Homo sapiens: one gene and its partners. The protein of the gene in region 1 purifies or fractionates together with the protein of each later gene. This does not show direct contact. Each region holds a gene or a part of one and is shown in the gene's direction. Other genes may lie near its edges. The genes, in order: ANO6, MIA3 and ANAPC4.

Evidence for each region.
Region 2: the proteins of ANO6 (region 1) and MIA3 purify together in Homo sapiens (affinity purification with mass spectrometry; 2 studies listed by BioGRID and IntAct, with this or other methods). This does not show direct contact.
Region 3: the proteins of ANO6 (region 1) and ANAPC4 purify together in Homo sapiens (affinity purification with mass spectrometry; 2 studies listed by BioGRID and IntAct, with this or other methods). This does not show direct contact.

The regions. Positions count from the first base shown.
Region 1 is NC_000012.12:45,222,477-45,226,130, forward strand, and holds part of ANO6 (anoctamin-6), read left to right. Parts: intron 1-3,654. UniProt on the Homo sapiens protein: Small-conductance calcium-activated nonselective cation (SCAN) channel which acts as a regulator of phospholipid scrambling in platelets and osteoblasts.
Region 2 is NC_000001.11:222,631,474-222,635,127, forward strand, and holds part of MIA3 (transport and Golgi organization protein 1 homolog isoform 1 precursor), read left to right. Parts: intron 1-691; coding exon 692-853; intron 854-1,630; coding exon 1,631-1,776; intron 1,777-3,654.
Region 3 is NC_000004.12:25,415,172-25,418,925, forward strand, and holds the end of ANAPC4 (anaphase-promoting complex subunit 4), read left to right. Parts: intron 1-228; coding exon of another isoform or gene 229-235; exon of another isoform or gene 236-294; coding exon 295-369; intron 370-1,253; coding exon 1,254-1,427; intron 1,428-2,444; coding exon 2,445-2,568; intron 2,569-2,983; coding exon 2,984-3,211; 3' UTR 3,212-3,327; downstream 3,328-3,754. UniProt on the Homo sapiens protein: Component of the anaphase promoting complex/cyclosome (APC/C), a cell cycle-regulated E3 ubiquitin ligase that controls progression through mitosis and the G1 phase of the cell cycle.

The DNA.
Region 1 (3,654 bases):
AATTTCAGCCTCACCTCCTCTTTTTCTCAGTGGTTCCCTGTGATATTATGACACATATGTTTTTGTCCATGGTTCCTGGCTTATAACTACCATAACTCTTGCTATAATGTTGGGGTGCTTTAGGCCTCAGAAGCAGAAGCAGGCCTCAGAAAACAATCTCCATCTTTGACCTGCCCTATTTTTACCTTTGTCTCTCCAATTTTAGAAACTAAAACTATAATCTTTCCCCATCTTTCTGTGTGAGAACTGCCCATAAAGAAATTCTCCCATCTACCTTGTCTGAATGTAGGCCATAAGACCCCCATTTCAGAAGGGATCCTGCCCCATACCCTGGAGGAAGGAATGCTGCACAGAGATGCCAGAAAAATCTGATCAGACAGGCCTTGCTGGGTTTCCCCATTCAGTCTATTAGTATTAAATCGTATGCTTTTTGTCCAATCACTTTTCAACATGGTTCAATCATGACTATCCAATGAAGTCTCCATAAAGGTCCAAGAGGACTGGTTCAGGGAGTTTCTGGATAGCTGAACAGTGGAGGTACCTGAAGGTAGCTTGCCCTGGGAGGGCGTGAAAACTCAGTGCCTTTTCCCGCATACCTCACTCTATGCATCTCTTCATCTTTATCTTTTATAATAAACTGGTAAACGGGAAGTGTTTCCCTGAGTTCCCCAAGCCACTACAGCAAATTAATGGAACCCAAGGAGGGTGTCGTGGGAACCCCAATTTATAAACAGTTCATCAGAAGCATAGGTAAAATGACCCGGGGCTTGTGATTGGCATCAGAAGTAGTGGGGGGCAATTTTGTGGGACTGAACCCTTAACTGTGGGATCTGACACCATCTCCAGGTAAATAGTGTCAGAATTCACTTGGAGGATACCCAGCTGGTATCCACTGCAGAATTGATTGCTTGCTTGTTGCTGGGGAGAAATCCTTGCACATTTGGTCACTGAAGTCTTCTGTGTTGATTGTTGAATAAGAGAATAGAAAAAACACTTAGTGTTTTTCTGCTCACAGCCTCCCTCCCCTCCCAAGTCTGTCACAAACCCAGAAAGTTGTTAATGATCCTCTTAGCCCAAAGTGCTCACAATGAATTCTCACTTATTTTTTTGTTCTATGCAGTTAGCATTCATCCTGTATTTTGTCTTTGTTATTCATTATCTTTGCGTTTATCATTCCCATAACCATAGTGTACATTTCTTGGTGACTGGCCTAGGTTATTTAAGTCTTCTAGAGATCATGCAAAATATCTTAAATATTGTACATATTCCATTGCTATAATTTTTAAGAGTTGTCTCTTTTCCTCATTCTCCTCTAAAATGTAAGCTCCCTGAAGACTGGTACCTTGTGTGTTTTGTGTTTTAAGCTGTGTCCCTCATGGCACCTTGGTAGGAGCCAAGCAAGTAATTGTGGAAGGAATGGATGATTTATTCTTCTAAGATAACTTGATTAACATAATGCCTAGTGGTTTTATGGCCCTAGTAGAATTTTCTTCTTCTGTGGCACTTTGAGATACCCCCAGTTATCTGTTCTAAAAATGCTGAGTGTATGTATTTTACCAGGCACTCTGCTAGGTTCCAGGTTCACTGTTCTCTAGTACCTCACTGTCTAGAAAGGAAACGGATAATTTCAGTAACTTGTGATTAATACTGTAATCAAGATCTGTACCAGGTTCAGTGGTGATACCAAGGAGAAAGCACGTGACCTTGCCTAGGGGAATCCAGGACAGCTCTATTGGGGCAGCACCTGAGCCAGCCCTGTTGGGATGAAAAGACAGGTGAGGGCATGGGGCTAGGACAGCAGAGCGTCCTGAGTGTTTCTAAAGGCATGATGATTTCTCAAAAATTAAATCTTGATACACCCTGGCCTTATTCACGATGGCAAGGGGATCATGTTGTGTACATATCATAAATATATACACATGTATAAATATGTATACATTATATATACATATGTGTGTGTGTGTCTGTATGCACACTCTCTACCAAGGAGATGACAGCTAAAAACAAAGCAAACTATCCTCAAACTCTCTTTTAGAATAGTCTTGCTTCTTTTTATAAACCTTTTGTTATTTTCAGTTTCAAGTCCACAGACATGATTTATCTTGCACATTCTTTCAAGTCAAATAATAGCTTTCCAAAAGGTCCTCCAGTATCCTCTTAAAATACTTTATTTGGTTCTGAGACAAACACAGCTCTAAAAGAATAAGAGTTACTCTTACTTAATTTGTATTTTAGCTGTATACACACTCGTCTTTTCTCAAGGGGTTGCAGCAGTCACATATGTCGATTGCTCTACATTTATTATTTTTTCTTTTGGGAGCCTAGAAATTTAGACCAAATGCTCCTATGAAAATTTCCATCAGTTATATGGGATTTTAATTCTGATATTCTTGAAGGGAGATTATAAAGGATTAAGAATACCGGAAATAAAGGGCCGGACATGATGGGTCATGCCTATTATCTCAGCACTTTGGGAGGCCAAGGTGGGAATATTGCTTGAGCGAAAGAGTTTGAAACCAGCCTGGGAAACATACTAAGACCCAATCTATACAAAAACTGCAAAAATCAGTTGGGCATGGCACATGCCTGTGGTGCCAGCTGCTTTGGAGGCTGAGGTGGAAGATTCAATTGAACCCAGGAAGCCAAGGCTGCAGTGAGCTGTCATTGTGCCACTGCAGTCCAGCCTGGGCAACAGAGACCCTGTCTCAAAAAAAAAAAAAAAAAAACTCACGATTTGGCTTTAAATTAAAGGATGATATTGATCTCTTAGTGATATCTGTAGCAGATGATTAAAATGATTGTATTTTAATAAGTTTTCACTCTAATCCTTTAGGTTTTCTTCTGTTACACTTTACTTGGTGTGTATTTTGTATTTTAGCTGTACATCTTAACCAAAAACACTCGTCTTGAAGCGGGGAGAAGATTTCTTATTCATCTTTGTATCTCACAGCCTGAATATCGTAATGTTTTTCACATAGTAGATGTTCAACAAAACATATGTTTTGGGACATTTTTAGATTTTTTTTTTTTGAGATGGAGTCTTACTCTTTTTCCTAGGCTGGAGTGCAGTGGCAAGATCTGGGCTCACTGCAAGCTCCACCTCCCAGGTTCACGCCATTCTCCTGCATCAGCCTCCCGAGTAGCTGGGACTACAGGCACCCACCACCACGCCCGGCTAATTTTTTTGTATTTTTAGTAGAGACGGGGTTTCACCCTGTTAACCAGGTTGGTCTTGATCTCCTGACTTCGTTATCCTCCCGCCTCGGCCTTCCAAAGTGCTGGGATTACAGGCGTGAGACATTTTTAGATTTTAATGGAAGCTTTGCATGCCATATGATTTAAGCTGTCTGATTATAATGAATTCAGGGCTGGGTCTGTGCAAGAGTAGTCAATTTTAGAACAGAAAATATTTCCAATTACCTTTAGCCAACGAAATGTACTACTCAACTGATTGGTAAATCATATGTAAAGATACAGATTGAAGGAATTTTATTCAGCCAAATGATTGTCTTATGACATTATTTTTTTTTCTTTAGTTTTGTATTTTGGTCATTGCAACTAAAATTAATTAGCATCCATCCCAAAAAGCAGTTTGAAGAATACTGGTAGATGAGTATGTCAACAATAGAATATTTTGGACATGGACCAAAGAGC
Region 2 (3,654 bases), on another chromosome or scaffold:
AGCCACAGGAAAACGTATTACTCCAGAGTGCTAATTTTTCCTAAGAAATGGGGGAGGAGAACTTTTTTGCATTTAATTAAAACATATATTTTGGATAAGAAGGCAATATTCAGATGAATTTTCAGGGTAAAATATGAGGCTACAAGGAAATTCACCTTTGCTGTGGATCACATTGGACTGTCCCCTAAGCCTCTTAGGAGAGGAGATGGCTTCACTTTGTTTGACTCTTAGAGGTACTTTGAAAGTATTCGAAAGACATCTCAGCAAGCTGCCTTGGCGTGGAATGTCCCTGTCTGTACTAGTTCTGTGAGAAAGGCATGCTAGGGTATGCAAGAGTTCATGTTACTTCTCTGCAGAATAGATGTTTCACATTTCTGCTCTTGAGTGGAATTCTCATTTGCACATTTATTTGTGTGGGTGTAGGCTGATTTGCCAAGGAAAGATGTTACTGAAGTCCCTACCATAAATGTATTTATTTATGAAATACTCCTCTGTAGATTTTATTATGTAGATTAGTCATCCTTTAAATGGAATAAAAGAAACTGAAACTCTTATTTCCCTGCCCAGTTGTGCTCCATGGGATGCCCATGCATGGAGGTCAATGTTGAGGTGCCCTGGTGTGGTCAGTGGGATTAGCCTAACAGGTAGTGTCATCAAGCTGTGCTAGCCCAGTGTATTCTTCTCACCCTAGAGATGCAACCACTGCATGAAGATAATTTCTCACGAGAGAAGACAGCAGAACTTAATGTGCAGGTTCCTGAAGAACCCACCCACTTGGACCAACGTGTGATTGGGGACACTCATGCCTCAGAAGTGTCACAGAAGCCAAATACTGAGAAAGACCTGGACCCAGGTAAAGCCTGCTAATTTTTTTCTACAAAGTGGAGAAATCATAAAGAAGGCCTTCTAGGAGATTCATTGTCAAAGGCAGGAGCTAGAGACTTGTTAAATTCAAAGGAAAAAAGGATCCCAGAGCTAATTGAGAGAAAAGCAGGCGTCAAGACAGATGGAGATCAAAAATAGGAAAGACACCAGAGACTATAACTAACCTACAAACCAATGTTTGGCTGTCACTATCTTGTGTAAATTATTTCAATCTAAAATATTATTCTTAAAAGGCCTTATGCTCTAAAACAGTAGTTTTCAACCAGCCCAGCAGCATCAGAAACTCTGGGGGTGGAACCGGCAATCTGTGTTTAACAAGCCCTCCAGGAAAGACTGACCTGATGCAAATTACAGTTGGAGAACCACTGCTCTAAAACTCACAAATTCTGTTTTTCCTCTACTTTACCCCTCTCTTTCCAAATAAAATACAATGCAATGCAGTTCTTTTTTTTGATTTGCTATCTGGACATGGTAAGTAAAACTTCTTAAAATACAGTGAAGGGGTCCAAGTATGTTTATAGCATAAGCTCATAGGAGACAGTACAGAACACTGTAGTGTGTAATAGTCCAGGATAGACCGACACAAAGAGTATTTCACCACAGTGCACAGTAAACATCCAGTGAGAGATGAGAACGTTTACTTTCCAGGCACAGTGCCTAATATTTAGTGGATACTCAATAAGTATTTTTTAAAGAGAATTCTTATTCTAAAGCACAAAATGTCTATCTTTCCTCCCAATTCCAGGGCCAGTTACAACAGAAGACACTCCTATGGATGCTATTGATGCAAACAAGCAACCAGAGACAGCCGCCGAAGAGCCGGCAAGTGTCACACCTTTGGAAAACGCAATCCTTCTAATATATTCATTCATGTTTTATTTAACTAAGTCGGTAAGTTTAACATAGTTTTTTTTTAACTAAAATGTTGATTATTACAGTTTTTAAGTTGATTTTGAGCATGAGGTGAAGAACTTAAAATGTCTTTATGAACCTGACTCCTGATCCTTTGAAGAGAGACCCTGAAATGAGCCACAGGTGTGTGGCTTTAATGGGCTCTTAGTTCAGCACATGAGGAGGCTTTGCTGCATGCTGGAGCTGGGCACAAGCACACCTGTCAAACGTGGTTCTTCCTTTCAGGGACCTTTCAGTTTAGCCAGGAGAGAAAGACAGTCACTTGAAATGTAACATGATAATGGGCAGGAAGAGAAGTATTTACCTGATGGTAGAACAATCTGTGGCATAAATTGGTTCATCGTGGAGGGAGAGTGATAGGAAAGGCCAGAAATTCGCTGAGATATGCTTTAAGCAGATTCGAAAGAGATGGGAGCTTGACTTGGAGTTGTCAAATAGAAGGGCTAGGGGAAGGATGTGGGCAGGGGGGCGGGCAGCATGCAGTCAGGCAGAAGAAATAACACATTCAGAGAAATGGAGGCATGAAGAAAAGGTTATTTGGGGAAGCCAGGGAAGCGTGGGTAGTTGGTGTTTTTTCTTTTTCTTTTTTTTTTAAATTGAGACAGGGTCTTGCTCTGTTGCCCAGGCAGGAGTGCATTGGCGTGATCTCAGCTCACTGCAACCTCTGCCTCCTGGGCTCAGGCGATCCTCCTGCTTCAGTCTCCTGAGTAGCTGGGATCACAAGTGTGCACCACCATGCCTGGCTATTTTTTGTAGAGGTGGGGTTTTGTGATGTTGCCCAGGTTGGTCTCGAACTCCTGAGCCCATGGGAGCTGCCCACCTTGGCCTCCCAAAGTGCTGGGATTACAGGCGTGAGCCACCATTCCCGGCCAGTTGGTGTTGTTAAAGTGTGGAGTTAAAATTAGCTGGGCAGGGTGGTGCACACCTGTAATCCCATCTACTTGGGAGGCTGAGGCAGGAGAATAGCTTGAGCCCGGGAGGCAGAGGTTGCAATTAGCTGAGATCGTGCCACTGCATTCCAGCCTGAGCGACAGAGCAAGACCCTGCCTCAGAAAAAATAAAAATAAAAAAGTATGGAGTTAGGAGGGAGAAGGTCTGTTGGAGGGACTCAGGGAAAGTCAGAAAGGAAATTGTACACCATAGTGAGTGGTCAGACCATTGTTGGCAGAGATCCTTGGAAGATTTTAAGCAGGAAAGGGATTGTCAGGTCTGTTTCTTAGAAAGAGTCACTTATGGCAGAATATTTATTCAGATCTTTCTAAAGGGAGCCATGCTCCAAATGAGACATTTAATGTCTAGAAGCTTATCTAGGCTTTTTAGGACTTAGCTCCCCCTTGTGGTACTCGGTGGAATTGGACTTTTTTTCTTGGTAAATTAGAGGACTAAGCAAGCTCTTGAAGTTGGAGGCCAGGTTGCCCTTAGGGCTACAGAGAAAGTATGCTTCTCACCAAAGCCATTTCCTTTAGGTTCTGTTATTTCAAGACTCGAATAGGAAAGAGCGTTCTTGTTGTTTTTCTGTTAAAATCCATGGGTTTCAAGCCAAGATGATTTTATTTCAAATCCCAAAGCTATCGATTAGAAGTTTAGGGCAAATTACTAAACTTTGAACCTCAACTTTCTCATCTGAAAAATTTAGATAATACATACTCCAATTGTTGGTAAGAATTAAATGACATGATAATGTAAAATGTCTGGTGTAGCAACTGGCATTTTGTAAGATCTCATCCCTCACCTAATTCTCATTTGGATGGTCAGAGGGCATATAAAGACATTGAATACCTGAGGGTTTCAGGAGAAAGACCACCAGGATGGAAAACAAGTAGGAAAACCAAACCATTTTTCAGTATTATTCATGTT
Region 3 (3,754 bases), on another chromosome or scaffold:
TATTTAGAACGCCATTGGTAGCTTAAAAATGGTTTTAAACCTGAATTTGAAGAAAATGTTGAGACCACGATGTAACCAAAAAGAAATAATTGGGTTATTTCTATTCCAAATGTCTTTGGTGACTGTGTGATTTTAAACCAAATTGGTTTATCTATCTAGGCATTTAAACAAGTTCTCAGTGTTCTAAAGAAGTACATGTACTGACCCTGACAATCATGTTCTTTTAAGCCTTTAGATTATTGACTATCCAGGTTGTTCCACAGAGTCTCTTTTTTTCCCCCTTCTTTCTTGAAGATCTGTGAGTAATGGACTAATTGCTATTAAATTTGGGAGCTTTACATATGCCACAACAGAAAAAGTCAGAAGAAGGTAAGTCTTGAATCTTGTTTGGATGAAATGTAGATACATGTGATATGTGTATATGTTTAGGAATAGGATCAGACTCAGTTACGGTGGTAATATAGGTAAAAGGGCTTTGCCACTTCCCACATCAAGGGCAGGATTCTTTGTGTATTTATACATAGAGAATGATTTGACTTGTGATTGAATAGAACCTTACTGCCCTGCAGTTTATGTCGTACGGTTTCCTATAATTAATACTCCTGAGCTCCCTGTTGACAAAGAAAGTAATGTGGTTCCCATGGGCAGATGGCCTGCAGGGCTGAAGTTCTTGTTACGACCAAAAAAAATTATGAGGTGATGCCATTCTTAGTGATGGGAGATTTTCTTAGGATTCAAAATGGTAACAGTACCTAAGCCATCCCTGAGGCTTCGCAAGGGAAAGAAGTGACTAATCATAGGCTGATCTTTTTCTCACTTTTTTCCTCACATAAAATAAGTTTTTTTATGATAAAGTCCTTGGAGTTGCTGTGCCTATTTTTCATGTGTAGTATCTTATTTTTATTTCTCAGTCTAGTCAACTCTGCTGAATGTGTATATAAGGTGTCATTCATAGAATTTCCACAGGCTTAAGGCCTAACCATTGATGGCCAGGGGCTTTCTAGAACTGAAACAACTTCACAGATTTTTGGGGGTCATGATTACCCATTTTTAAGATTTGGTTATATATGTGAATAATCAGTACAAAAAGTAACTGATTTTAATACAAACCAATGATATATTTTAAATGTTATTGTACAGAATGTCACTTAACTTTTAAATTTTTTTCTGCTTGCTGCCAGTATAACATGCATACAATATTTTCTCAGTAGTCACGATCATCTTTGATATAACAAAACTTATTTTAATTCTAGCATCTACAGTTGTTTAGATGCACAGTTTTATGATGATGAAACTGTAACAGTAGTTCTTAAAGACACTGTAGGACGTGAAGGAAGAGATAGACTCTTGGTCCAGCTGCCTTTGTCTTTAGTATATAACAGTGAAGATTCTGCAGAATATCAGTTCACTGGGACTTATTCTACAAGGTAACTAGTAACATTGTCTTTCTGATATTACAGTTAAATGTTTTTTTAATGCACATTATAAATTCCAACCTTTTAGGTACGCTAGATAATGGTTATTTCGTTACTAGAGATAACCACAGAGGTAGCTGAGCAGAAATGCTCCAATTTTTCATTCAAAATATGCTGGCCTTAATAGCTTTTTTTGTCCCTTTGCTTTACTAGTAAATCAGGAAGTATTTGCTGGAATCAAGGTGGGGAATTATTTGGAGTGGATAATGGGACTTCTTTTAGTTACATTTTTAAGGATAGCATTAACCCTAGTTGGTTGGAATTAGTTATTTTTGATTTGCCTTCAGTATTTTCCTTCCAGAATTAAGACCTCAGTACCCATGTAGGAAGTATACTGTCAATTCCAAGAGATGGCTTTAATTGACTGAGACTTAAGTAAGCAGATCTCTAATTTAAAAATGTATCCATTTGCTTTCTTTGAAAGGGAGTCAGAAACCTTGCTAAGATGATATTCTGCCTGTTTGGAATTACAGTATTTCTTTTCTTTTTTTTTTTTGAAACAGGGCCTCTCTTTGTCACCCAGGTTGGAGTGCAGTGACGCAATCATAGCTCACTGCAGCCTCCAACTCATGGGCTCAAGTGACCCTCCTGCCTCAGCCTCTCATAGCTGGGACTACAGGCATGTGCCACCTTGCCTGACTAATTTTATTTTTTTACAGAGATAGAGTCTTACTATGTTGCCCAGGCTGGCCTTGAACTCCTGGACTCAAGCAATCCTCCCACCTTGGCCTCGCAAAGTGCTGAGATTCCAGGCATGAGCCACTGTGCCTAGCCAGAATATAGAATATGGAATTTTTATAGAATATTATATCACAGCTTTTTTTCTAACACAACAGTTGCTAAAATTATATTGGAAATAGAAGTATGAGTAGAAGTCAAAACCATAATTGACCCTAATACCACCTGTAGTAAAACTAGGGAGGATAAGATCCCCTTTTCATTCCTGAGTTGGTTTTTTTCCCTCTTTAGGCTAGATGAACAGTGTAGTGCTATTCCCACCCGTACCATGCATTTTGAGAAGCACTGGAGATTACTGGAAAGTATGAAAGCACAGTATGTTGCTGGGAATGGTTTTCGAAAAGTGTCCTGTGTGGTAAGTGTTTAGAGATCGTTCAGCAACTAAGAAATTACAAGAAGTAACGTTGCTTCTTTGGAACCTTCATCAAATACATGATATATAAGGTCCTTTTGTGCAAATATTTTTACTGTGATTTATAGCTTGTATTGATTATGATCATGTGGTGGCCTTAGCTATTTAGTTCTTGTTCTGATAAAGCTTACTAAGTAGTTAATAATAATACTAGATTTTAATCTCACGAAATTGCCACTGTTGTTATGTGGAGATCTTTTTATACAAAATGAAGGCTGAATTTATTGATTTTGTTGTAAATTGATGGGAATATAACTTTCCTATAAAACCATTCTTTGATTCAGACTTCTGATTTCTAATTCTTTATATATGATAAGCCATTAATTTAAAAATGCTTTTATGGCCTTTTCTTTTTTAGTTAAGCTCAAATCTTCGTCATGTGAGAGTATTTGAAATGGACATAGATGATGAATGGGAGCTCGATGAGTCTTCAGATGAAGAGGAGGAGGCCAGTAATAAGCCTGTAAAAATAAAGGAAGAAGTGTTGTCGGAGTCAGAGGCAGAGAACCAACAAGCTGGTGCTGCCGCTTTAGCTCCAGAGATAGTCATTAAAGTGGAAAAACTTGACCCTGAGCTAGACTCCTAATCTAGCTTGCCATTATTGTGTGTGTAATTATGGCCAAAAGGACATAGGAGATGGACTAAGATGTCTTGGACCACCTTTGTGTAACAAAGAAATAAACAGTAAATTTTATTTTTTCATATTCTGCTTCATCTTCTCTTAGTGATATAGTCACTATGATAGACTTTATTTTTTCTGAGCTTTCTCTTTAATGCTATGTGCAGAACTAGTGTTTAAAGAAAACAGGGCCAGGCATGGTGGCTCATGCTGGTAATCTCAGCACTTTGGGAGTCTGAGGTGGGTGGCTCACCTGAAGTCAGGAGTTCAAGACCAGCCTGGCCAACATGGCAAAACCCCGTCTCTACTAAAAATACAAAAATGAGCTGGGCGTGGTGCATGCCCCTATAATTCCAGCCACTTGGGAGGCTGAGGCATGAGAATCGCTTAAACCTGGGAGCCAGAGGTTTCAGTGGGCTGAGATTGCGCCATTGCACTCCATCCAGCCTGCGTGATGGAGTGAGACTCTGTCTCAAAAAAGAAAGAGAGAAGGTGAACAAATTGAATATG